2 separate regions of the Homo sapiens genome follow, and region 2 is linked to region 1. A link means that fine-mapping ties the variant in region 1 to the expression of a gene that starts in the linked region. Tissue or cell type: NK cells. Region 1 holds a variant in brackets; the other region holds the start of a gene. All regions are shown on one strand. Distances are between the middles of the regions.

What was found. PIP is the estimated chance that this variant, and not a neighbour inherited with it, causes the effect.
Region 2: it holds the start of ZNF831, and the variant in region 1 is fine-mapped to the expression of ZNF831 in NK cells (Gilchrist 2021, PIP 0.95).

Annotation. Positions count from the first base shown.
Region 1 is chr20:59,257,434-59,260,120 of GRCh38, forward strand. It overlaps ZNF831 (zinc finger protein 831), which reads left to right. Exons shown (of 6, transcript NM_178457.3): 6 at 1-1,680. Among named protein-coding and RNA genes, the nearest start is that of EDN3, 42 kb to the right of the region's middle. The variant G/A (reference allele first, on the strand shown) is at 1,174.
Region 2 is chr20:59,162,622-59,165,308 of GRCh38, forward strand. ZNF831 (zinc finger protein 831) reads left to right here and starts at 1,200. Exons shown (of 6, transcript NM_178457.3): 1 at 1,200-1,586.

The sequences.
Region 1 (2,687 bases):
AAAGCAATGAACAATCTCTGATTTTATAAATCTTAATTTTCCTATGGGTTTTCTTAAAGTGAAATACAATTATAAGAATACATTTTAAGGGTAACATTAACAACCTAGAACCCAGTTTGGGTTACTAAAAATAAAATGTCAGTATTATCAATTGATAACTACCACAGTTTTATACTCTGCAAGTGTGTACTGCATGATGGTTAAGGAAAAACAAATTTATTTTAGAACAAAGCAAACCAGAGTTTAAAGATCAGGGATTTCCTTCTTTCCCCAGTGCTAATTTTCCCAGTGTTAATTTTATTATATCTTTAGGTAAGGGTCTTAACCAACTGATGCCTCAGTTTCTTCCACAGAGAATAGTTAGAGGGATGCTGTCATGAACTAAGGGAAGGGCACTGAATTTTTTTTTGCCAATATCAAAAGTGACATTTCCCCATGATGTTCAAGACTCACCAGGTTTCTCTCTCCACCTGTACCTACACCCAGCTAGATCTTGTCGTTAAAGATGTATGGAGGGAAGAGGTTTCAATCCTTCCCTCCTTGGCAACCTACATTGTTAAGTGACTCAAAGTCATGTGATTTTTGGTGGACAACTGGAATCCTCCTTCTTGTAAAACACATTGAAAAACAGCTCATCTCTCCTGTTAGGCTTAACCCTTGAGATTTGAGACAAAGCTAATAATCCCCTTTGGTTCACATCTCACAGTAACCAGGAGAACCTATGGTTCATTTGCCAAGTGATTAAAAAAAAAGATGGAGGAGGGTGTCTCTGAATTTTAATGGAAACACTGCCAATAGCATGGTGGGTAACCTAGGGCAAGACAGACTTTTTCTTCCTGAAATCACTCTTCTAAAGCTGAGACCGGAAGAGGAACCTTGCAGAAGTGCACTGTGACCACAGTTCTTGGCATGAAAGATAAACAATTTGCAGTCTCATGCCAAAAAGTATTTCCTTGCATTTACATTCATTACTTAGAATGATCACATTATTCATTTTTTTCCCCAGCACAGAAATTTGCATTTTGCACAGAATTTGCCTGGTGCAGCAGATCTTTATAGTTATGGAAACTGTCATCATTATCGGAATGTGCTGCTGCTCAACTCCCCAGACATAATTTAATATGGTGAGGAGAATATGACCTGCCTGGCTCTATGGGTGATCATATTTCTACT[G/A]CTGCAGCAAGCTGGGCTTGTGTATTTTTCCTCACTTCAGTTGTTCTTCCCATAGTTCATGTAGGGAGGCACTTTGGCTTTTGAAACACTACATTTCTCAATATTTAAGCACAATTTATTGTCCTTATTTTTCAGAACCCATTAAATATAAGGGTCAGAACCTAGAAAATCTTATGTGCTGGATTTCTACCCTGTATGATTCTTTTCATCCATGCTTTGCACTTACGTAGGAATATACATAATTTGGTCTGAAGAAGTATAGGAACAGTTGAGCACATTACTTCACCACTGGAAGAATAGGAACCAGGGAAAAACATCAGCCTCTGCCACTTGGAGCACTAGAGGATGACGGAATGTCTTGTATATGCGGTCAACTGTTCAGGATTTACTACTCAATTGGTTGTTCACAATCAGGGAAATGATTGGCTTCTTGGTTGTTTGTTGAACTTTCTTTCTTTATATGGTTAAATTATTTTGTTTTGATAAAAATAAAACTTAAAATGCAAATGTCTCACGTGATTTGTTAACATTTTAACCAAAACCCCTGCAAATCATATGCTTTATGAATTGGACATCTGATTATTCCTAATCATTGACCCAATGCCTCGTTGGCCGTATTGGTATCCCATTCCACTCAACAAAGGGATTAGGTCATGTCAAATGATCTCACTTTCTTGTGGTGCTTCCTTTTCACACATAGCTCGTTTGTCATTATCTGCCATATTTTATAGTCTGTAACTTAGGAATCTGGTTTTAGATTCTTAAATGTAGCGAAACTCTGAAGCCACAGGAGGGCACGAACCACAGTGCAATAATCCAGAATCTTTTCCCCTTGGATTTGATGTTTTCTGGACATTTAGCATTATTCATTAACAGAGAAAACATCCTTAAATCAAAATCATAGCTTCTTATGAAGGTGATTTATGTACTCCTTGCAAGAATAAGTAGACTTACTTTTACAGCCCAACACAATGTTATTAGTCTATTTACATACCTCTTGAAGACACTTGAAGTCAGTGGGGCACAATTCATTGGAGGGAAAAGTGGGATCGAGGATATGGAAGGAACAGGTATACTAATTGATGGCAGTTAATAGCTTTTTTCCCCAAACTCATCAAACTGTAATCGCCGTTATTATAATTAATCTATTTGTTCCAAACTTCAGTCATTTGAGAACCATCTTAATGCTTTTTGCCATATGTATCAAGATGCCACATGTGGGTATATTTTTTACTTAATACTTTTATTTAAATTATCTCTGTGTTAAAGAAGCAATTATTGCCCTAAGCAATAATGTCTATGAAAACTTGTTGAATTTTCGAGTTAAGTATATTTTCAAATATGCATTAAATGTAGTAAAACTATTAAAAATTGTTCATGTGCCAGTTAAATACCATCTTCATATTACCAGTGGTCTACCCAGTGCACTTGGGGAAACATCGAGCTAACCTAAACAGTATGTTTGCTGTTAGGTTTTCTAGTTATTCTGGCTTCTATGAAGCAGAGCTCTGTCT
Region 2 (2,687 bases), 95 kb before region 1:
TGGGTTCTCTATTCTGTTCCATTGGTCTGTGTGTCTATTTTTATACCAATACCATGCTGTGTTGGTTATTGTGGCCTTGTAGTATAGTTTGAAGTCAGATAATGTGATGCCTCTGGCTTTGTTATTTTTGCTTAGGATTGCTTTGGCTATTCGGGCTCCTTTTTGGTTCCATATGAATTCTGGAATAGTTTTTTTCTAATTCTGTGAAAAATGACATTGGTAATTTGATAGGAATAGTGTTGAATTGCTTTGAGCAGTATGGACATTTTAATGATATTGAGTCTTATAATCCATGAGCATGGAGTGTTTTATCATTTGTTTGTTTTCTTTCAGTAGTATTTTGTAGTTCTCCTTGTAGAGATCTTTCACCTCCTTGGTTAGATGTATTCCTAGGTGTGTGTGTGTGTGTGTGTGTGTGTGTGTGTGTGTGTTGCTATTGTAAATGGGATTGTGTTCTTGATTTGGCTCTCGGCTTGAACATTACTGGTGTATAGAAATGCTACTGATTTTTGTACATTGATTTTTGTATCCTTAAACTACTGAAGTCATTCATTGGGTCTAGGAGTCTTTTGGTGGCAACTTTAGGGTTTTCTAGATATAGAATCATATCATCAGTGAAGAGAGATAACTTGACTTCCTCTTTTCCTATTTGGATGCCTTTTATTTCTTTCTCTTGCCTGATTGCTCTGGCTAGGATTTTCAGTACTATGTTGAATAGAGTGATCAGTGCCATATCTTAAAAATAAAACCTAATTCAAACAAATCCATGTTGAACAAAATATCACCATTTTACATAAAGACAGCATCGCAGAAATCTTTCACTGGGACCTCCCACCATAGTCAATTGCAGTGGAAATGCTCATTCTGGGCCCTCAGGAACCTCTGGGGTTACATGTGGAGGTTCTGCAAACACTTGTTCCATCCACATCTCCAGGAAAACGACCACCTAGGCTCTAATTCTTAAACTTGCCTGCACAGAACAACCTCATCTCTAATGCAATGTTTTTTTGCACACCTACATTTCTGGGCAGCAAGCTCTTTATAGGTTGTTAGGTCAATAGTAACAATTACTAAAGAGCTGAGCGGTGGCTCTTTTTTTTTTTTTTTCGTGTCTGCTTCTATCTCTTCCTGTTTTCTAAGGGTTGCTACCGTGACGTTAGGTAATGTATAGGAAATAATTTACTTCCTATTTCTGGGCCATACCAAGTTTTATCTCTGCTTGAGTCTCTTCCAGGTTGCTTGAAATGGTGCTTTTCTCAGTTAAACGTGGACTTGACATAAAGGCCAAGCCACAGGAGGCTGCCCTCTTTTATTTTATTTTATTTTCTAAGGCTCAGGGAGCATCTCTCCGTTCTCTGAGATGCTGCCTGCAGAGTAGGAACTGGGAGAGAACACTAAAATGCCCTCTCAGCAAAGAGTAGCGAGCTCCCTACAGAGAGTGAGAGCACGGGCTCTTGAGCTCATCTCTTCTCTGTGGGGCCAGCCCAGTGGTCCTTTCTGGACCTGTGGGTGTCTTCTCTGGGCAACCAGATCATTGTGTTTGAATCAGAGCATCATTGGCTGAAAACACTCCACTGTTTATAAAGGTATGTAACATGCTCCATGACATAAGCATATATAAAATGTCAGTTAAAAAAAAACTCTTTTACTCTATGTTCTTAATGATATATTTATCTTCAAGCACGCAGTTAAAGGGAAAATGCTACGTAAAACTGTGTGTGACCCAGTTCAAGTAATTCTCTCATGTGCTTAATACTGCTGTTGCTTTTGTCAAAATATTTACTACAATTCAAAATGGCTGTCAGAAACCAGGTCCACAATCCATGTTCTACTAAACAGAAAAACATTTATAAGAAAATTTATTGCTTTATAAACTGTTTTTTTTCCCAGTGATGAACCTAATTAAACTGAAAGTGTGAATTGGTTAGAACATATTAGCCCAAGTATGTGTGGTATATATATACACATATATATGTATGTTTTATTAGGCCAAGTTTTTTATTTGTATATAATATAATTGAAATATCAAGGTATTTGATAGAGCTACTATTTATAGCAATTCTACTGATCAGCCACCCAAGGGTAGCATTTTTCAATGAGATTTACAAGGGCCAATAGTCCATGTATTTATACACATATCTGACTTCCCAGTATCCAAAATAGCAAAGAGCTGGAGGCTATCTCAGATCAGCCATGGAAGCCATGCTCTGAGAGGTAACGTGTTTCTCCTTTCCCGTAGCAAATCTTTCTGTAAGAATGAAACCAGAGATGTTATCTACCAAAATGCAACGAGGGACAGGATGCAACTTAGAAAAATGGTAACATTAGCTGACTGGGAAAAACAGAATCAACGTCAGGGCCAGTTTAAAATAATATGCCTTTTAACCACCCTCGCTTTATTGCCCCAGCTAAGAGCAAGTATTTAGGACCATAGGCTAATATTAATCAGAGAGAACACTTAGGTTCTGTGGCAATGTTGGGGTCTGTGAGATTTGCTTCCTTAGCTGTGCTTCCGCTGGGAAGCTGGGGAGGGTTGGTCCTGAAGGAGGAGTGCCATGTGAGCAGGGTTACCCAAAAGCACCTGCCTAGGGGAAATGGGCTCACTATCAGGCGCCGTGGAGTTACCAGCTAGAGAGACTTTTCTCCTGGTAGAGACCATGAACATCATGTAAGCAGAGAACCAAGAC